3 separate regions of the Homo sapiens genome follow, and all the other regions are reported to be linked to region 1. Evidence: microRNA targets listed by miRTarBase, many of them from high-throughput screens and not tested one by one. Region 1 holds a microRNA gene; each other region holds the end of a gene's coding sequence.
The links. The annotated mature microRNA hsa-miR-4751 reads AGAGGACCCGUAGCUGCUAGAAGG and lies in region 1 at 3,488-3,511, opposite strand. An mRNA with a match to its seed (bases 2 to 7 or 8) in the 3' UTR can be bound and repressed. Matches are read on the target gene's strand: a 7mer-m8 pairs with bases 2 to 8, a 7mer-A1 pairs with bases 2 to 7 and ends in A, and an 8mer does both.

Region 2: the mRNA of CASKIN1 is a reported target of hsa-miR-4751. Seed matches in the 3' UTR shown: 7mer-m8 at 6,004-6,010.
Region 3: the mRNA of SLIT1 is a reported target of hsa-miR-4751. Seed matches in the 3' UTR shown: 7mer-A1 at 3,032-3,038.

The regions. Positions count from the first base shown.
Region 1 is chr19:49,929,472-49,936,583 of GRCh38, reverse strand. MIR4751 (microRNA 4751) reads right to left here and starts at 3,520; the gene lies at 3,447-3,520. NUP62 (nucleoporin 62) reads left to right here and starts at 7,080. Exons shown (of 3, transcript NM_016553.5): 1 at 7,080-7,112. ATF5 (activating transcription factor 5) reads right to left here. Exons shown (of 3, transcript NM_001193646.2): 2 at 5,556-5,852; 3 at 2,649-4,162. The coding sequence starts at 5,733. The coding sequence ends at 3,492. It also overlaps a transcript of IL4I1 not described here. RefSeq lists a silencer at 6,590-6,639.
Region 2 is chr16:2,172,333-2,179,439 of GRCh38, forward strand. CASKIN1 (CASK interacting protein 1) reads right to left here. Exons shown (of 20, transcript NM_020764.4): 19 at 6,570-6,993; 20 at 4,848-6,314. The coding sequence ends at 6,218. TRAF7 (TNF receptor associated factor 7) reads left to right here. Exons shown (of 21, transcript NM_032271.3): 8 at 1-42; 9 at 133-267; 10 at 850-1,067; 11 at 1,149-1,222; 12 at 1,456-1,504; 13 at 1,589-1,716; 14 at 1,919-2,001; 15 at 2,779-2,818; 16 at 2,969-3,085; 17 at 3,168-3,290; 18 at 3,502-3,621; 19 at 3,717-3,848; 20 at 3,933-4,052; 21 at 4,228-5,797. The coding sequence ends at 4,242. Among named protein-coding and RNA genes, the nearest start is that of TRAF7, 20 kb to the left of the region's middle. RefSeq lists an enhancer at 5,496-5,997.
Region 3 is chr10:96,995,200-97,002,306 of GRCh38, reverse strand. SLIT1 (slit guidance ligand 1) reads left to right here. Exons shown (of 37, transcript NM_003061.3): 36 at 1-149; 37 at 957-4,269. The coding sequence ends at 1,195. LCOR (ligand dependent nuclear receptor corepressor) reads right to left here. Exons shown (of 8, transcript NM_001346516.2): 8 at 6,351-7,107. Among named protein-coding and RNA genes, the nearest start is that of SLIT1-AS1, 100 kb to the left of the region's middle. RefSeq lists an enhancer at 1-362.

The DNA of each region.
Region 1 (7,112 bases):
CGACCAGGGAATGTTTTATTCTTCTCAGGAGAGGTGCTTAAGGAGGGGCTGTATTCTGGCTGAGGCTGTGGATGGACTGAAATTCAGAGGCCTGGCAGTGAGGAGAGTAAGTTAGGTTAAACAAGCATTTTGTTTCAATTGATCACTGGGGACAAAACAGTTCAGTTAATCATGTACGAGACAACGAAATGGGAATTTGGAGGGTCTATGTCTGCCCTTGTCTTAGACAAGGGGTTCATCCTCAAGTCTTATCTAAGTCATATACGGAAGGGTGGTTCTTCTCAGTAAGCCATCTCCTGGAATGCAAAAAAGCGGGAGGATTTCTTTTTTGTTGTTAGTTTTTTTTAACTTTTTGTAGAGACAGGGTCGTGCTATGTTGCCCAGGTTGTTCTCAAGCTCCTGGGCTCAAACGATCCTCCCACTTTGGCCTCCCAAAGTGTAGGGATTACAGGGGTCAGCCACTACACCTGGGCCGGAAAAGTGGGGGGATTTCTTCACTGTCGCTGTTGTCCACACACGCAAGGCTCCGGTAAAATTCCGCACTGTTGCAAAGAAAGATGCTTTGCTGCTGGGTGGAGAACTTTTTTTTTCTTTTTTCTTTTATTTATGTATTTATTTATTATTATTTTTTGAGACAGTCTTGCTCTGTTGCCCAGGCTGGAGTGCAGTGGCACGATCTCGGCTCAATGCAACCTCTGCCTCCTGAGTTCAAGCAATTCTCCTGCCTCAGCCTCCTGAGTAGCTGGGACCACAAGTGTGCACCACCATGCCCAGCTAATTTTTGTATTTTTCATAGAGACGGGGTTTCACCATGTTGGCCAGGATGGTCTCCATTGCTTGACCTCGTGATCCACCCACCTCAGCCTCCCAAAGTGCTGGGATTACAGGCATGAGCCACTGTGCCCAGTCTTTTTTTTTTTTTTTTTAACAGGTTCTTGCTTTGTCACCCAGGCTGGAGTGCAATGGCACAAACATGGCTCACTGCAGCCTCAACCTTTGGGTTCAAGCAATCCCCCCGCCTCAGCCTCCTGAGTACCTGGAACTACAGACTACAGGTTCATGCCACCACGCCCAGCTAATTTTCTTTCTTTTCTTTTTCTTTTCTTTTTTTTTTTTTTTTGAGACAGAGCCTTGCTCTGTTGCCCAGGCTGGAGTGTAATGGTGTGATCTCAGCTCACTGCAACCTCTGCCTCCTGGGTTCAAGCCATTCTCCTGCCTCAGCCTCCCAGGTAGCTGGGACTACAGGCATGCGCCACCATGCCTGGCTAATTTTTTTTGTATTTTTAGTAGATGAGGTTTCACCATGCTGGCCAGGCTGGTCTTGAACTCCTGACCTCAAATGATTCGCCCGCCTCGGCCTCCCAAAGTGCTGGGATTACAGACGTTGAGCCAAGGCGCCCGGCCCCACCTAATTTTTTTTTTGTAGAGACAGCATCTTGCTATGTTGCCAAGGCTGGTCCCCAACTTCTGGCCTCAAGCGATCCTCCTGCCTCAGCCTCCCAAGTATGTAGGACTACAGGTGCACACCACCTCACCCACTAATTTTTTTTCTTTTTTTTTTTTTGAGATGGAGTTCCACTCTTGTTGCTGAGGCTGGAATGCAATGGTGCGATCTCAGCTCACTGCAACCTCCGCCTCCCAGGTTTAGGGGATTCTCCTGCCTGAGCCTCCCAAGTAGCTGGGATTACAGGCGCCCACCACCATGCCTGGCTAATTTTGTATTTTTAGTAGAAACAGGGTTTCACCATGTTAGTCAGGCTGGTCTCGAACTCCTGACCTCAGGTGATCCACCCACCTTGGCCTCCCAAAGTGCTGGGATTACAAGCGTAAGCCACAGCACCCAGCCATTTTCTTAAAAATTATTTTTTGTAGAGATGAGGTCTCATTATGTTATCCAGGCTGATTTCCACCTTCTGGGCTCAAGCAATTCACCTGGCAAAGCCTCCCAAAGTGCTGGGATTGCAGGCGTGAGCCACTGCACCCACCCTGTTATCTTTATTACTGTCTTTTTCTTTTTTTTTTGAGATGGAGTATTGCTCTGTCGCCCAGGCTGGAGTGCAGTGGCGCAATCTAGGCTCACTGCAAGCTCTGCCTCCTAGGTTGAAGTGATTCTCCTGCCTCAGCCTCCCGAGTAGCTGGGACCACAGGCGCCCGCCACCACACCCGGCTAATTTTTCATATTTTTAGTAAAGACAGGGTTTCACCGTGTTAGCCAGGATGGTCTCAATCTCCTGACCTCGTGATCTGCCCACCTCAGCCTCCCAAAGTGCTGGGATTACAGGCGTGAGTCACCACGCCCGGCCCTCCCCACCTCCCCCCCCCTTTTTTTTTTTTTTTTTTTTTGAGATAGCGTTTCAATCTTGTTTCCCAGACTGGAGTGCAATAGAACAATCTTGGCTCACTGCAACCTCCGTCTCCTTGGCTCAAGCGAGTCTCCTGCCTCAGCCTCCCAAGTTGCCGGGATTACAGGCACACGCCACCACACCCAGCTAATTTTGTATTTTCAGTAGAGATGGGGTTTCACCTTGTTGGTCAGGCTGGTCCTGAACTCCTGACCTCAGGTGATCTGCCCGCCTCAGCCTCTCAAAGTGCTGAGATTACAAGGCCGCCTCTCCCCAGCTGCTTCTCTCAAAGACAAGATGCACAAGCCAGAGGAAATGTTTCGTTTTATTTTTGCTCATAACCTCCCAAAAAAATCAGTACCCCGCCATCCCTCACCCAGACACAGCCCCTCTCCAACACCTTCACGAAACACTGATTTTTTTTCTTAGAGCTAAAATGAACACCCAGTCACCAACTACAGCCCTGCCCTGCCCCTCCTCCCACTGGCCTGCTCATCTTCCCGCACTGCAAACCTGGCCGCCTTTAGCCTCCCTCCCTTAGCGTAGTGTCCCAAGGTCACCTAGCCTGCTTTTTGCCTGTAGGATATGGGTCCCCTTCTCAAAGCCCGCCCTGACTTACTTCCTCATTTGCATAGTCCTTCAGCTCTATCCTGTCGCCACTCCACCCACCCCAGACAACCACCTGTAAGAAACCAGGTTTGAAATTCAAGAGACCAGGTTTCCAAGCTCCCAGCTGCTTCCCTGTGGGCCTCGGTGCCTCGGCTGTTATGTGACGGGCATAGACATTGACTAAGGCCAAACATTTCATGATTTGGACGAGAAAGGAGGGAAGGAGATCCAGAAATACGCAAGAGAGGTGATAAGCAGAGACAGAGGATAAAAGGATAAGAGTAGAGAGGAGTTGGGTGGTTTGGTGGGGAAGAAGGGTTGATTTTTTTTTTTTAATAGAGACAGGGTCTTACTATGTTGCCCAGGCTGGTATTGACCTCCTGGCCTCAAACGATCCTCCTGCCTTGGCCTCCCAAAGTGCTGGGATTACAAGCATAAGCCACTGCACCCGGCCGAGAGGGGTTTGGAATGAAGGTAGAGGCAGGGGGATGAAGGCGCCAGAGCTGAAGACCAGCCCCCAGAAGCCACACCCCTGCCCTTCTAGCAGCTACGGGTCCTCTGGCTCCGGGCCTTGTAAACCTCGATGAGCAGGTCCTTGACGTACTGGATCTCGCGCTCCACGGACTCTGCCCGTTCCTTCAGCTCGCGATTCCGTGCCTCCAGCCCCTGGCACTCGCCCTCCAGGGCCTCACCCTCTGCCCGCTTCCGCTGGCGGTACCTCAGAGCCGCCGACTTGTTCTGGTCTCTCTTCTTTTGCTTGCGGTCCCCTCGGGTGGTGGCAGGATGTGGGTAGGGGGCCAGGCGAGAAGGTTGAGGTGGAGAAGGAGGAGGGGGCTGCTGTGGCGGGGGCAGAGGCGGCATCCCCACTTCCTCCTGCCCGGCCTCGTTGCGGCAGTAGATGGCCAGCAAGTCCAGAGTATCCAAGACAGGGGGCTGGGGGAGGTCAAAGGAGGGGAGGGACAGGGGGAGGGAGGGGGCTGGTGGTAGTGGTGGTGGTGGTAGTGGCGGCGGGGAGGGTGGTGGGAGGGGCGGGGCATCTAGGAAGAAGTCTTCCATCTGTTCCAGCTCCTTCTTGAGGAGGGAGGCCATAGCTTCCAGGTCAGGTGGGGTTGGGGAAGGTTGGGGGAGGGTGCCGGGGGGTAAGGGAGGCTCCAGAGGGAGGAGAGCTGTGAAATCAACTCGCTCAGTCATCCAGTCAGAGAAGCCATCACCTGGGATTAAAGTGGGGAGGGACACAAAATTCCCTGAGTTGCTGGTCTTCTGCGTAGTTGGGTGCTGACTCACGTCTCATTCAGGTGCATCTGTCCCATTCATTCAGTAAAACAACTAACCACTGAATCATCAAACCAGTCAATAAACCAACAAACCAGTGAAGAAACCAATAAACCAGTCAACGAACCAACCAACAATCAACCATCTAACCACCCAGTCAACCAACCAACCAACCAACCAACCAATGAACTAGTCGACCAATCAATCAGGGAATCGGTCAACCAACCAAATAAATCAGTCAACCAACCAATCAACCCATTAATCAACCAATGAACCAGTTAACCAAAACCCAACAAATTAGCCAATGAAAGAATCAGTCTTAACCCATAAGAGGGTCCAGGAGAAAAAAAAAATTAAAAAAGAAAAAAAGAACCAGCCAACCAACCAATGACTCAAGCAACAGTCAACCAAGCATTTCTTCAACCATTCCAACATCTCCTTTACCGAGTACTCTGTATCTGTGGTGTCTCTATTCTCTCTTTTTAAAAGGCAAACTAGATCACATTACACACACAGATACACACGCACATATGCCTTGTTTCATCTTTACTCATTAATTATTGAAAACCCACTATGTGCCAAGCATTTGGGATACAGTAATGAATGAAATGATTCCTGCCTCCTGAGGGCTTCTGCATATACAGTTCCCTCCAACTAAAATGCTCTTCCCTTGGGTGTTTTCCTCATTCCTTCCCTACTTTTTTTTTATTTTAAGGGATAGGGTTTCACTCTGTTGCCCAGGCTGCAGTGCAGTGGCATCATCTTGGCTCACTGCAGCCTAGACCTCCCAGGCTCAAGCGATCCTCCCACCTCAGCCTCCCAAGTAGCTGTGACTACAAGCGTGAGCCACCATGCCTGGCTAATTTTTTTTTTCCTATAGATATGAGGTCTCGCTATGTTGCCCACGTCCTGAACTCCTGGACTAAAGCAATTCTCCCCGCTTGGCCTCCCAAAGTGCTGGGATTACAGGCCATCATGCCTGGCTTCCTTCCCATCATTTATGCCTCAGTCAACATGTTACCTACTTGGAGAAGGTTTTCTGGCTACCCATTCTATATTAGGTCCCCTTTGTCATTTTGTAGCTCAGCTGCTAGGTGTTTTTGACTTATTCCAATACACTCTCATTTAATTTATCTCTGGTCTACTCCCCACAGTGTGAGCTGCTGGAAGGCACAGACCATGTTCTTCTTGTTCCCAGCCGTATCCTCAGCACCTAAAACAGTGCCTGGCACATTGTAGGCACTCAATATTTATTGAATACATGGATGAGTTCTTCCTCCCCCATCTTCCCCTGCCCTCCACTCCCCAGCTCCACCTTCCACCTGCCCTTACCTGCCAGGGGCTCTCCCCCCACTGGAAGCCCGCCCTCCAGGGCTCCCCCAAGGACCTCATAGGGAGCCAGGGGGGCAGGGGCCGGGGGGAGTTTCCCATAGTCTACGAGCCATCCCAGCCCACTAGCTGGGAGCAGGGCCCTGTCCAGCTCCAGCCCCAGGGTCGCCAGGAGTGACATGGCTGTAGCACAGGTGCTGGGCACTGATGGCAACAGGAGAGGCTGCACCAGCAGCTGGCACGAGGCTCTGGAGGATGCTCAGGTGGGCGAAGACAGGCACCAAGGCGAAAGTGGAAGACCTACACGCGTGAGACAAGAGTGGGTGTGGTCAGGACAGCGTCATCCACCGGCCAAAATCAAGGGGAAGCCAAGCCACACCCCCAGGCACGTCCATGAGGCTCCTCCCTCCCCCTTCCAACCACCGTTTAGAACACTAAGCCTCAGCCTCTCCGAATTCTAAATTTGCCCTTTCTTTACCCAAATCTCTGAGCCCCACCCACTCCCAAGGGAATTTCTTTAGGTCCTAAAGTAGGACCGATGCCCCACCCCTTCCCCCAATACAGAAAAAAAAAACCTAAAGGTCTCCCAGGGGAATTACCTTAGGCCCCTCCCATCCACCTCAGAATATTTCGCCTCAAGGAAAAACTCAATCCCAGGGACATTTTCTTCCAGCCACGCCCCTTCCTCTAAAATATTTCCTTTTGGCCCCACTGCCTTCCTAGCTTCCATCCCAAACCAGTTCCCAGGGGAACTGCCCCAGGCCGCAGCCCTTCAGCAATGTTATCCACTCAAATCCCACTCCTCGCTCTGCCGCTGCCCCTCCAAGCCCCGCCCCTCATTGTTTATTTAGCTCCGCCCCTCCCCCGATTCCCCAGAGGCCCCGCCTCTTTGTCACATCGAAACCCCACCCCTCAACTAACGGTTGGTTTAGCCCCGCCCCTTCTCACAATGTGCTTCCGAAATCCCACCCATCGTGACGACAGTGGTTCTATCCCCACCCACTTAGAGGGTTGCCTCTGGGTCCCGCCTTCTGCCCTGTCAATCTAAGCCAGTCCCCGCCTCAGCAGGTGCCTGGTTTAAAAGGAAGGAAGCTGGGCTGTGAGCCAGAGCAACGTGGGGCAGGGAGGGTGGAGGAGGGTAGAGGGGGCACGCGGAGAACGGCTACCCGAACGCCACCCGTCCACACGCGGCTCTGCGCCGAGGGCCAAGGCGCATGCTACGTCGCCCGAGCGGTCCAATTGCCTTTACACCTCCGCCCTCTTGGGGATCAATGCGCATGTGCGGCCATTCAGGGTCCGCAGCTCTTTCACTACGGGGCACTGGTGGGCTACTGCGCAGGAACAACCAAGCACGAAGAATCGTTTAGAAAAAAAAAAAACACACCCTCCCCTGGAGTGCTCAGGCCCAGCTGCACGCGGGCTGACAAACATCGAGTCTAGAACTCTCCCACCCGGCCCCGGGCCCAGTGCGCATGCGCAGCCGCGCGCCTTCGGCCCACCGTACTACTTCTGCGCCTGCGCGACCGTGATTCCCCGCTCGCGACTCCCCACCCCCCAGGG
Region 2 (7,107 bases), not on the chromosome of region 1:
CCCCCGAGGGTGCCCCTTCACCATCAAGCTCAGCGCCCGGAAGTAAGTGCCCCTCCCTGGGCACCTCTGCCTCCCTGGGGGCTGCTTCTCAGGGCTCTGGCTGAGGCCTCCCCGCATCCCGCCCTGGCACAGGGACCACGAGGGCAGCTGTGACTACAGGCCTGTGCGGTGTCCCAACAACCCCAGCTGCCCCCCGCTGCTCAGGATGAACCTGGAGGCCCACCTCAAGGAGTGCGAGCACATCAAATGCCCCCACTCCAAGTACGGGTGAGTGGGGGGCGGGCGGGGGTGGGCCGGGGTGGGCGCAGGCCCTCCACAGGCTCCGCTGAGAGCTGCCCGCTTGCTGGTCCCGGGGAGGTAGGCCGGAGCTGGGGCCACACCGGGGTCTGTAATCCTCTCTGAGGCCCAAGGCCCTGGAAACCCAGAGGGGGAGCCGAGGGCGTCCAGGAAGGCGGGCGTGGACGCTCCCGCAGCCGGCCCAGCATGGGCGGATTTGAGCAAATGCTGGGGTTGAGAGCTTTGGAGAGGGAGGTGGGGGTGGGAGGAGAGGCAGGAGCCCAGTTCTTCAGGGCAGGGAGGTGGGCAGGGAGGCTGCCAAGCAGCGTGGGTTTTATCCTCAGGAAGGGAGGACCCCTTGAAGAGCTCTGCGGGGGTGACGTGATGGGATCTCACTTGTGAAGCAGACTGGGGGTAGCTGGATGGGGAGGAGGGGCAGGACGGCAGGTGTGGGTGGGGGCAGCTGGACCTGGGGTGCAGCGGCCACAGGGCTGGAGCATTTGAGGGGGATTCTTGGGGATGGGGAGGCACCGGCAGGGACCCGCCAGGCAGGCAGCTGTCCTGTCCCCGCAGGTGCACGTTCATCGGGAACCAGGACACTTACGAGACCCACCTGGAGACTTGCCGCTTCGAGGGCCTGAAGGAGTTTCTGCAGCAGACGGATGACCGCTTCCACGAGATGCACGTGGCTCTGGCCCAGAAGGACCAGGAGATCGCCTTCCTGCGCTCCATGCTGGGAAAGCTCTCGGAGAAGATCGACCAGCTAGAGAAGAGCCTGGAGCTCAAGTTTGGTGAGGGTGGGCACCGGGGCAGGCAGGGGCCTGGCCACTGCTCCGGGCACCAGTGACACCCCCTCTCCTCCTGCTACTCAGACGTCCTGGACGAAAACCAGAGCAAGCTCAGCGAGGACCTCATGGAGTTCCGGCGGGACGCATCCATGTTAAATGTGAGCGGGCGGGGCTGGAGGGGCTGGGTTGTGAGACCCGGGGAGGCCGGCGGCCCCGGCAGGGAGGCCTCCCCTGGCCTTGCCTACACTAGTCAAGATCAGGGGTCTTGTGTGTGGCAGGGGCTGCTGTCACCCCTGCCCACCCCTGGCCCAGGGCAGCAGGGGCAGAGAGGCTGCACTGGCCCCACAGCAGCCCTGCCCACCTGCCCTCTGCCCTGCCCTTGGCCCTGCAGGACGAGCTGTCCCACATCAACGCGCGGCTGAACATGGGCATCCTAGGCTGTGAGTATGGACCCGCCGTGGCTCCCGCCCACCCTCCCCCCCGGGCCCCAACTGGGCCTTCACCCACTGCTCCCATCTCTGCAGCCTACGACCCTCAGCAGATCTTCAAGTGCAAAGGGACCTTTGTGGGCCACCAGGGCCCTGTGTGGTGTCTCTGCGTCTACTCCATGGGTGACCTGCTCTTCAGTGGCTCCTCTGACAAGACCATCAAGGTGGGCAGGGTCCTACCTCAGTCTCTGCAGCCTGGCTGGGCTGGGCACTGCCACATGCCTGGCACTGCCAGCCTGCCTATGGGTGGGACCTTCTGGGCAGGGCCCTCTCCCATGGGCGGGGCTCCCTCACTCATTCCTGTCATGCTGCCCCTTGACACTGGGCTGACCTTGCTGGGACCCACTGTGGCCCTGGTCTCTGCAGGTGTGGGACACATGTACCACCTACAAGTGTCAGAAGACACTGGAGGGCCATGATGGCATCGTGCTGGCTCTCTGCATCCAGGGGTGAGTCCAGGCACATGTGTGATCAGTGATTCCCAGGACAGGAGACGTGGCGCTGCCACCCCGTGGGCCGTGAGCCATGAGCTCGAGCCTGTGTAGCTATGTGTGTGCCCCACCTATAGGGCACCCTCCACCCGGAGCAGCACTGTTTCCTGGGTAGCAGTGTGTGGGCCCTTGTGTGGCCTACACCATCTCCAAAGTTGTGTGTTCCCAATACCTGGCGCAGCCAGCCTCCCAGCAGAACCTTGTCCTGGCCCAGGTGCACCTTGCGCAACCAGAAGATAGGGGGGACCTTAGGGGGTGAAGGCAGGAGCTCAGCTCTCCCCTGCCTGCAGCCAAAGCCCAGGGCATAGAGACTACGGAGCAACTACCTTGGCCACTTTCTTGCCTCCAGGTGGCCCGCCTGCCTCCTGTCTCCTATCGTGAGGCTTTGTGGGAGCGAGCAAGTAAGCGTGTGCGTGAGAGATGCTCGCTTTCAGGAGGCGGCAGCTTGACTGCCAGCAGCCGGCCCTGGGACTGACTCAGGGCTGACGGGTGGGTAATTACCTCCCAGCTCGCTGTCAAATGCTTTCCAGGCAGGCATCAGGGGCTGGCCCGCCCCTTCCAAGGTTCCCATGTGGAGACTGGAAAATAGGCTGACGCTTAAGGACACAGCAGTGGCCTTGGCCCTGGGCCATGCTGCTGGTTCCTGATGGCTGGCATGGACCTCGGGCCCTGCCAGGGCGGTGTCAGCATGGACACAGCTTCTCCCACCTTGACACATTGTCTCTGCTTCCCCAGGTGCAAACTCTACAGCGGCTCTGCAGACTGCACCATCATTGTGAGTGGGGCCTACAGGCGGGTGGGCAGGAGGCGGCCCAGGCCCGCCCCAGTCTGTAGGTGCCCCAGGGACGTGTTTCTCCCCGTCTGGGCTCCAGACTCCAGGTGGCAGGGCTTGGTGCCCTGAGGCTGCCGGTCCTTCCCCAATCAGGTGTGGGACATCCAGAACCTGCAGAAGGTGAACACCATCCGGGCCCATGACAACCCGGTGTGCACGCTGGTCTCCTCACACAACGTGCTCTTCAGCGGCTCCCTGAAGGCCATCAAGGTACGGGTGGAGGCTGTGCCTACGTGTGTGTCACTGAGGCGTCCCTTGCCCGCCCAGCCCACAGTTGCAGCAATCCCTGCAGGTCTGGGACATCGTGGGCACTGAGCTGAAGTTGAAGAAGGAGCTCACAGGCCTCAACCACTGGGTGCGGGCCCTGGTGGCTGCCCAGAGCTACCTGTACAGCGGCTCCTACCAGACAATCAAGGTGCGCTTGGGCACACCTGGTGGCCACAGGGCCTTGCCTCCTACCAGCACTTCCCAGGCCAGCACCTGGGGCTCCATCTGCCCTGTTCCTACCTTCGCACATCCCCTGGCTGGGTGGGTGGGCTGCCCAGCAGTGCTGAAGCCCTGGGGGTGCGGGGGCCCTGGGGGTGAAGCACCTGGCCTGGGACCAACTGGCCCACGATTACTCATAGATCTGGGACATCCGAACCCTTGACTGCATCCACGTCCTGCAGACGTCTGGTGGCAGCGTCTACTCCATTGCTGTGACAAATCACCACATTGTCTGTGGCACCTACGAGAACCTCATCCACGTAAGGCCTGGGCATCTGGGTGCAAGGCCAGACTGTGGCCCCGTCTCCCCCGCCTTGCTCAGTGTCTTTGACCTGCCTGTGCCCACCCCTCCCAGGTGTGGGACATTGAGTCCAAGGAGCAGGTGCGGACCCTCACGGGCCACGTGGGCACCGTGTATGCCCTGGCGGTCATCTCGACGCCAGACCAGACCAAAGTCTTCAGTGCATCCTACGACCGGTCCCTCAGGGTGCGTGCTGGCCCAGCGGTGGCAGGAGGCTCAGAGGGCTGGCAGCTGAGCTCCGGCGGGCCCTCACGTCCCATGTGCCCCCAGGTCTGGAGTATGGACAACATGATCTGCACGCAGACCCTGCTGCGTCACCAGGGCAGTGTCACCGCGCTGGCTGTGTCCCGGGGCCGACTCTTCTCAGGGGCTGTGGATAGCACTGTGAAGGTCAGTGCCCGTGGCTCAGGCCATTCAAAGGGGCTGCACAGGATGGAGCGGGGGTGGGGACGAGGAGCTGGCAGCCCCAGCACAAAGTGGTGGAGGGCAGGTACGTGTGGCAGGTGTGGCTGGGGCAGGGCAGCCGGCCGCAGGACATCCTGGTGAAGCAGCCCTTTCTCTGCAGGTTTGGACTTGCTAACAGGATCCAGGCCAGGCTGTGGTTTCCCCTGAACCAGCCCTGGACCTTTCTGAGCCAGGCTGGCCACATGGGGTGGTCTCGGGGTTTCTGCCTGCCCCGTGGGCATAGGTGGACAGGCTCTGGCAGCCGGGCAGTGCCCTCCCCGTCCCATGCTCGGCGAGCCTCCCTCTACTCGGCACTGTCCTTGCTGCCCAGCCCCTCTCTGGGTGCCAGGTACGACGCTTGCCCCGGCCCACCCTCCATCCCCACCCTCCATCCCCACCCTAGATGGAGCGAGGGCCTTTTTACTCACCTTTTCTACCGTTTTTAGACTGTATGTAGATTTGGTTACCTCCTGGTTGAAATAAATGCTCCACAGACTGTGGCTGTGAGTGGGGACAGCTCCTCGGGACAAGGGGGCTGTGTGTGGCCTTGAGGTTGGTGTGCACAGGCACTGGCTGCTGTGAGTGGGGGGGCATGGGGCAGTTTCCTTTGGTGGACCCCAGGACTTCGGCCCACTCCGGGGCCTCCCCTCCCTGCTAGGAGGCAACTCGTCACACCCAAGCTGCTGGCCTCCAGTCCCATCTCCCCCAACACATGTGCCCCCAAAAAGTGAGCCAGGCACCTCTGTTTCCTGCTGTTTATTGACAGCCGACGGCAGCGCCTTGCCCAGACCTCCCCTGCCCACCTGCTGGAGCCCAGCCTGTGCCGCCCTCTGAGGAGAGGCCTGGGGGGACAGCTGGGCACGTCCACTCGCAGGGAAACACGGGGTGAGACAGCAGGAAGGGGCCCTGCACGCCGGGACGCCACCTCCGCCAGCCGCCTCCACCCGCCCCACACCACAATCGCTGGTTTTCGGCATTTTTTAAATTTTTTTTTTAAGAAACGTCAAAGTTGTGCCCAACACTGTGGATCAGCAAACACGATAGAGGAGACCAGTCAGTACTTCTTGGAGGGGGCAGGAGGAGAGAGGAAAAGGGAGGGCGAGAATGACCACACAACACAGCCTTGGACCATGAGCAGAAGCGTCCGTGGGAACTCCACTGGGGTGGATGGGCTGCCTGCACAGCCCCTGGAGAGGGGGCCAGGCACACCCTCAGAGGAGCTGCAAGCCCGTGGCCTGGCCTGCTACATGCCCTGCTTCCACGTGGCTGCCACGCTGACACACCCACATTCACCAAACCCACCCGCGCCCTGGGACGCAGCCACGCCAGGAGGAGGACACGGCCGCCGAGAGCAAGGCACAACCTCGAGTTCTTGGGGCGCAGAGAACTTAGGAGAGAAGCACGGAGGAGCCCCCGGCAGAGCACCCGCCCCCGGGCCCCAGCCTTCCACCTGTGCTAGCAGCCTGGGGCCTCCACTCTGGCCGGAGGAAGGACCGCAGGCAGACAGCCTGGGCCTCTAACAGCTTTTGTCCGGAGCTAGACTTCGTGTCCTTTCAGTTGGTAAATGGTTTTCTATAGAATCAATAATATTTCTTTCTTTAAATATATATTTGTTAAAGTTATACCTTTTTGTTTCTCTGGGGAAATCCGCCTCAGCTCATTCCCAATAAATTAATACTCTTGATAGCTTATATTCTGGGGGTGCGGTGGGGCAGGGGGGCCCTGACCTTGGTCCCCTGTCCCTTGTGCTGCGCCCGAGCGGCTGGCCGGGCGTCCCGATGGGCAGTTCTGTGCTGGGCCCGGGCCTGTGCGCTGCCCCATCCCTGGTCCCGGGGCGCCCTCCCCTCCCGCGCGGGCAGGAGGCCCAGCAGGTATTGCACGGGGAGCAGCAGGTGGGGAGGACCCGCGGGCGCAGGGTCTGCCTAGAGCCCTTGGAGCCCCCGGCCAGGCGGTCCCCGGTGGGCGCCCCGGCCCGGGTCCAGGGGCCGGAGTTGTGCTTCTGCAGGGCCCTGCCCGGCCGCTCGCGCCGCGCCCAGACGCGCCCATCCTGAGGTATAGGTCAGTGTGCGGGGAGGGCCCGGGCGGCGCGGGAGGGCCCGGCCAGGCGGCGTTCACTCCAGCATGGCATCCAGCTGGTCGGCCAGGTCGTCGAACATGCTGCCGATGTCGTCCAGGATGCTGCCAGTGCTCTTTTCCGCCGCCGAGTCGCTGCGGGGCGCGGGGCAAGGGGCGTGAGTGGGCGGGGCGGGTCTGGCCACGCCCACCCCGACCAGGACACGCCCACGTCCCGCATCTCCGTCGGCTTCCGCCTACCGCACGACGACCTCGGCGGAGCCCCGCTCACGGCACGCCCATCTCTGCCGAGCCCCGCCCATCTCTGCCGAGCCCCGCCCATCTCTGCCGAGCCCCGCCCATCTCTGCCGAGCCCCGCCCTCCGCCCGCCAGGCCCCGCCCCGCACCTACCGCGGGCCCTGCGCGTCCTCCTGCCGGATCTTCTCCTCCACCGCCTGCAGCGCCGCGGCCAGGCACGCGCTTGTCTCCTCCAGTTTCTGCCGGGCGCTGTCCCCTGGCGAGGCGCCTTCGGGCGGGGCGGGGGGCGCGGCGGCGGCGGCGGCGGCGGCGGCGGCGGCTCGCGGGGGCTTGGCGGGCACGTGCAGCGCGGGCGCGCCGGGGGACGGGGGCTTGGCGGGGCTGGCGCCCAGCGAGGGCGGCGTACCGGGCGGCTTGGCGAGGGCGGCGGGCGGCTGTCGCGCGGGCGAGGGTGCGGGTGAAGGGCCGGCGCTGCCCGAAGGCAGCCCCGCGACCGCCTTGACGGGCTTGGGCGCTGTGGGCGGCGGCGGCGGCTTGGGAGACACGGGCGGTGGCGTGCCGTGGGCGCGCTTCACCTCTGCGGGGAGGACCACGCTGGCACCGAGCGGGCACGAGTTCCGCCGCCGCGCCCCCTGCCCCAGCCTCCCGCGGCTTCCTCCCCAGCGGACCGGGAAAGACCCTGCTCACCTTG
Region 3 (7,107 bases), not on the chromosome of region 1:
GTACTCGGGGGCACTGTGCAACCAGGCCGGGGCCCTGGCAGAGCCCTGCAGAGGCCTGCAGTGCCTGCATGGCCACTGCCAGGCCTCAGGCACCAAGGGGGCACACTGTGTGTGTGACCCCGGCTTTTCGGGCGAGCTGTGTGAGCAAGGTCAGGGGCCCCCCTCCTGACGTGCCCTCCCCAGGGTCCCCCACAAATTGCTTTAGCAATTTGACTCTTCCTCCCAGTCTCGGCAGCCCTTCTGTCCCTTCCCAGCCCTGTACCATGGGCTACTATGGGGCTTTCAGAGTCCCTCCACCCTCTGGGCACTGCTCCCAATCTCTCCTGGCCCAGTTTGCCCTGCAGCTCCCTTATTCAGGGTATGCGCCTCTTCTGGCTGGGGTCTCTCCTTGCAGAAGAGACCACCCAGGGTAACAGCTCCTGGCCCAACCTCTGCCTCTTGGCCCCATCACCTCATGACCTGGGAGCGGCAGCAGGAAGTCCGAGGGTTGGGGACTCCTTCCCAGGCCCTCCCTGGCCTGCTTGACCAAGATGGCTTCTGCTGGAATCCGGACTGCTAAGGCTGGGCAGGGAGAAGCTGGAGAAACCCAGAACTCAGGCACCTTAAGGGTCCCCTAGGCTATCCCCTCCCCAGCATGAATCCTTTTCATAATGTTATTGCCCCCGGGGCCTCCAGCCTCTCTTGCACGCCTCTAGCAATGGGGACCCCCCCTCCCTCCAGCAGTTCAGTCTGTCCTGGAGGGCCCTGACGCTAGGACCAGACTGTAGGCCCTGGGAGGAAGCTTGTGCATGTCAGTGGGAGGCGGAAGTATGCTGGGGACAGAGGTGGGGTCTGAGAGCCAAAGGATCCACCCCACAGATGCTGCCCTCCTCCTCCTCTTCCTCCTGCCTCCCTGGAGGCAGCAGCTCACCCATGGGTGTGCCCTGAGGCTTTCTCTTGGTGTCTGTCCCATCCAGAGTCCGAGTGCCGGGGGGACCCTGTCCGGGACTTTCACCAGGTCCAGAGGGGCTATGCCATCTGCCAGACCACGCGCCCCCTGTCATGGGTGGAGTGCCGGGGCTCGTGCCCAGGCCAGGGCTGCTGCCAGGGCCTTCGGCTGAAGCGGAGGAAGTTCACCTTTGAGTGCAGCGATGGGACCTCTTTTGCCGAGGAGGTGGAAAAGCCCACCAAGTGTGGCTGTGCCCTCTGCGCATAGCGCTGGGCGTGGACAGGCCGGTGAGGGCGGGCAAGGGGCCCCAGCCGCTGCAGCAGCGGAGACAGTCGCCAGCAGCTGGGCTGGGGTGCAGGTCATCACAGGACGGCTCCTGGGCAGCTGGGCCCTCCTGGGTGGGGTGGTGCCAGAGCAGCCTTTTAAAAGCAAATTGCGCCATAGCTGGGGGCAGCGGGGGTGGGCGAGGCCTGAGCTGCGGGCTGCCCTCTCCGGAAGTGCCTTGCACAAATAGGCGCTTAATAAATATTTGTTGAGTGAATGTGTGCGTGAGGTCAGGCCAAGAAGTGCAGAACGATGACACCCCTCCTTACCTGCTATCTGAATCTGGAGAAGAAAAATGACAGCCTTCCAAACCAACCCTTCCCTTTGGCCTGTGGCCCAGGCTGGCTTGGAACTGGGTCTGTGGCCCCAGAAGCCTCTTACCCCTCTGCGGGCAACCATGAAGTACTGTCAGCCTCCCCGGGAAGCCAGCCTGGTTCATTCTGCTGCTACAGAATCTGCTGGTGGTAGGCCAGGCTCTGGAGCGGGGGTGCCGCCTCCTGCTGGCCAGGGAGGGTCGGACCCTTGCCCCCTGGGCTGACTGGCAGCTCTGCAGCCACGGCTTGGGAACGAGGCTGTGGGTGGAGGTGGTTCTTAGGACCAGGCCTCTGAATCCTAAAGTTCTAGCATGACTACTGTAGCTGCGAGGGCTTATGTGGAGGAAACAGTCACAGGGGCTGCTCAGGGTGGCAGACCCCACTAAAGAGGGCAGAGGGTTCTTTGCTCTAGATAAACAAACATCATCTGCCTCCAGACACTGGCCACAGTAGGAGTATTGGTCCTGGGCTTCCCCAGCCACCAGTCAGCCACAAGCTGTCGGTGACCTATTGGTAGAGGGACTGGGTGTGAGGGTCTGGGCCAGGGTGCTTGACCTGGGAGCAGCTGGTTCAGAGTCCTTCACACCGCAGGCCAGTAGGGAGCAGTGGAAGGGACAGTGCTCCAGGCATTGGGAAGTCCCTGCTGGCTCTATCACTCGGGGCAAACTTCTCCCCACCTGGGCCTTGGGTTCTTCAGCTATAAAATGGCCAGAGGTGGGGGGCGGGATGACTAAAGGAACAGTGCAGACTCCCCCACTGTGGTCTTGGGAGGCCAGAGGAGTTAGAAGACCTATCTATCTATCTATCTATCTACATTGATCACATCAAAAGTATTTATGTGCCTAACCCGGGGCTGGGGATTGTGGACGTTCTGGCCTAATGGACAGATGTGAACTCATCCCAGAGCATCGCAGGAATGACCAGGATGCCCGGGAAGAGTTGAGCTGAGTGGGGGCTCCAGCCACAGACAGCGGCCCAGGCCAGGGAGTTGCTGGCAACGAAGGAGCCAGTGGTGGAAGAAGAAGAGGCCCTGAATATACGATTGCCTGCCCACGTTGTCTTCTCTTCCATACACAGTGAAAATGTAGAAAGATGGTTTGTGAGGCCAAACTGTGAATGGGCTAAAGGGAGGCAAAGTTGCACTCTCCTTCCCCAGAGGGCTCACCAAGAGGGCACACCCCCGGGGGTTCTGGTGGGCAACGGGGGTGAGCATGTCCCTGCCCTGGCTCCCTCCATCTGTGACCAGGAGGCATGGCTGGGTGTATGTTCAGGTGAGGCTCAGAGTGGCATTGTGTCCCTGTCCCCTGCCCAGGGCAGTGAGGGGAGCCCTTGATGCTGATTAGAAGGCTAGAACTGGGGTAGAGGTGCCTGGCATGTCTCATGCCATGGGGACTCAATCTAGCAACTGTGAGTCCTGGGGTCCCTGTGATGGGAAGAGGGCAGTGCCCTGCCCAATGTGGCAGGTGTCCTCATGGCAGGATCTGCCCCTCACCAGGGGGCTGGGATCTACTTGCTTGGAGCTCTGAGCAAGGCCACAATGCCCGCCCCCACCCCCAAGTAGACTGCAGCCTGGGCCTCATGGGGCTTCTCCCAGGCCCACATGGCATCCCTCTCTGAGTTTCCAGGCCACCGTGGGACCCTGCAGAGCATCTGCACCGGGCTGGATAGGGCAGAAAAGCTCAAGGGCAGCTAGCTTGCCTCTTCCCTGGAAGAAAGGTGCTCTGGGACTCACCAACCCTGAGAAAGATAGCTTTCCTGGCCACCACCATTCCCCACCACCCTGGAGAAGCCAATTCCCAGGCTTGAAGGGCACTGGCTGGCAGGAGGCCTCTTCATTCTGCAGGAGGTGGAAAGGACACCTGTAGACAGGTGATGCTCACCCCTCACCTGGCGCCATGGGGCTGGGAGGTGAGCGGCTGGCATGTTTGTTCCTAGGGAGCACCATGTGAGCTTAAGGCTCCCCTGACCGGCCCCACCACATGGCCCAGCCTCCTAGCACAGCAGCGCTGACCTCAGTGCAGTCTGAGGATTGGAATCCACCATGAGATGATGTGAGAGCTGTGTGCCCCAGGATCAACTTTTTCTCCAACTTGGCCATCAGCCAGCGAGTTGCTAAGGACCTGAGTCAGCACTCACGTTGCCTATTCACACTCCGCTTGAAAGTCCGGAAGGTGGCTACTGCAAAATCACCCCTCTGAGAAGTCCTCTCTCCACATCTTGTCCCCCTTTGTGAAGACCCCTAGTTCGCTCTGCATTTTAGGCATGAAGAGATACAGCAGGGTGCGTCCGGAGGGAGCTGTGGCCTTGCAACACCACTGGCAACAGGGCCGGGGCTCCCGGTGAAGGTGTCAGGAAGTGGAAAAGGCTGGACTTTGTCTCCTCTTTGCCTGCTGGTAGCCTAACCGCAAAAGTATCTCTTTATACAGAATACTTACAGATTCTAATATATATTTGTATTTCATTTTGTTACAGTATTTTTATATGTTAAAGTCAACATCCAGCGTCTTGTTTTGCCTTTCAGATGCTATGTGGTCGTGGCACGTTTTGTTGGGGGTTTCTGTAGTCGTCTTGTTTGGATCAACTCCTAGAGGCTGGTTTAGAACAGGCCCATGAGGGAGCTGCACCTGCCCTGGAAGTATTGTTTTAGACTATGTCGATATTGTCTGTTGTCTTCCATGTGAACATGACATTGAGTCACTCTGCCTTGTTGGTCTCTTTTTCTCCACCAAGGGCGGGCCGGGTGCTGCTGGCATTCTCTCCTAGGGCTTCTGGGCTGATCGCATATGGGCCATCATCCAGGGATGGCTCCAAGGGGCTACACACGTAGGATGTCTGTCCCTGGAACTCCCTGCTTTTCCTGAAGTCCATTCCTCCTGAAGGAGGGGGTCCTGGGAGAGGGCTGGGGGACACCCCCCCGGGGTCTGTCAGTGCACGGCCGAGCTGGGGAGGCTGCTCATCCTCATCTCCCTTCAAGTAATTGCCGTGACATGGACATTCTGTAAGTTTGTGCACAGAGCCACACCCATCTTTAATTTGGCTCTAAGGGTTTCGGAGCCATCGGGGCAATCTATATAGTGTGACTTCTCAGATGCCCTGTGAGGTTCACTTTCCTGTCCCCAGCACAGTGGCTCTTAGAAATTGGTGGAGAAAGCAGGCACACACACATACGTCTGCAGTGGCTCCATCACCATTCAGATGAGAACACTGCAAGCACGATTTTATAGGACTCACTCACTCAGGATGGATGTCTGGGTAAGGCCAGGCCTGGGCAGGCAGGCTGGGCAGGGTCACTGACACTAAAGGGAAGCCTGAGCCGGGACCATGAGCCAGCGCCATGGACAGGTTTCTGTGGAAAATTGGGCCAGGGCAATGGTCACACAAGCCACACCTTAACAGCACATGGGTCATCTTGAAAGTGGCCACTTGATATAACTTCAGTGCCTTCAAAAAAGTCAGGGATTTTGGAGGAAATGTAACGAACAGTGTGCAGGAGAGAAAATGCGTTCCAATGGGGTTGGATGCTCCCGTCTCACAAGGTCAGTTGGTTACCTGTCAGTCACCTGGCTGTCACTTCTGATAAGGCTGCACGTACACAGACCCATTCCCCTGCCGTGAAGAAACAGTGACAAATGGGAACTGACAGTCAGGGGCTGTGGTGACCTGAAAGGCACGTTTTCCAATCTCATGCCAGCTGACTCTTACCGTGAGTTAATTCTGTCAAATCTTCATCTTTTTAATTTTTTTACAAAAGTCAGAACTCTCAATCTTTATGTAAAAAAAAGCTCACGAAGTATTTTTTTAAACACTAGGCTAAAGAAAACACATCTGTAGGCCACCAGTTTGCTATTTCTGAGTTAAAGTAAAATCAGTGGCAAATTTCACTGCTAAAGGGAAATCCCCAGCCAAGGGAATGGGCACAGCCGGGCTTGGTTGGGAGGGTGGAGGCCAAAAAGCAGTGCCCAGACTTCCAATGGGCGACATCCTGATTACTAGAGCTGCCAAGTTTTCCTGAGATTGGTGATGACACATCTCTAGACACATCTCTATCATCCCTAAGCCCAAAGCCCTCAGAGTTAATTTTTGAGATGTCCCCTCACCCCAAGGCAGCCAGTCTGCACCTCTTGGGTCAGTATTTTCATTACTCCACTACAGGATGACTACTGGAGGAAAAGAGGTCTATCTTAACAATGAAAACAACTAATCTGGAATGAGGTAATCTTCCAACTTCAGATTCAGAGGGGTGGCCTGGCAGTCAGCTGTGGGGTTATTTTTGCTGGATGTGGTTCTGCACAGTGATGGCACAGTCAGATGAGCCGCTTGTGGGCCCTTACGCTGACCCACTTCAAGCAGAGTTGAAAGAATATAATGAAAAACTCATGAGGCTAGCAAATCGAAGGACTTTTTCTGCCATACTCCAACAAGGGCATTGAGAGCTGGGGCAGCCCTGGCCTGTGGCCTGCACACTTCCCAGTGGCTAGCCTGAGGTCAGGAGTTTGCCCTCCATTGCTCCCTGCCCCTCAGGATGAAATGCTGGCACCTTTCCAACCCTGCCATGGGAATCTCAAGGATTCCTCCATTGCCTTTTCTTTTCCCTGAAGTTAGGCAGAACTCACAAAATGATTTATTACTTACATTAGCAAACAAGGTTTCTCTAAGCCCTGACACTTGGTGGAAGTATTGCTTTGTGGTTCCTTCTGGCAACTCATCAATTTTGCCTTAGGCTGCAAGTTGAATGCCCGGCTTCAAGGCGTTCTGTGCCCTCTTCAGTGACTACACAGACACACTTGAATATCAAAGAAGTTTAATACGCTGCCATAAAATAAGCGCCTTGAAAAAGCTCATGGAATAGAAGTCAGTGTTAGAGAAACCCCTCCCACACATCCTCTGGCTCCACACCGCATCCTTCAAAACCAAACAAGAGAATCTGAAACAACACAGGACATCCTTCCAAGCTTGGATTTCAGTGAGGGCCCCTCTACCAATAACAAGAACACAGTTTCCTACATGGCCTGATAGGAAAGCAAAACACAGAAGCACAAGAAGTCTACAAGATTTCAATATTTAAGAGACTTGGTACATATTCAAAGTTAAAATAACTCCAACTTTTATAGCTATACATATTGTTTTAAAGCAACTTAATATATTTTAAAATTTTATATATACACTCTCAAAGGTTCTTCAGGTGAGGTATGTAAACATTGTCTAATGAAAAATTTCAATGTTTCAAACCAACAAATTCACAGCATACATTGAATTTTCATCCATTAAAGACACAGTATATTCCTACACTCACTAACATAGTAGAAATCCAGGCCCAAGAGCTACAGACTGATCTTCCGGGTGGCCACTTGCAGAATTTCTCATTTCACTGCTTCGGGAAAGACACTGTCACACAGGCCAGGAGCACACGCTTGGTACCAGGAGGGCGCTAGGCCCTCTGGAGGCCCTGTCCTTGGGCAGCTGGATCACTGGCTAAGACTCACAAGACAGCAAAAAGAGCACAACTGAACAACTACGAGATCGACCTCAGCAATGACAACA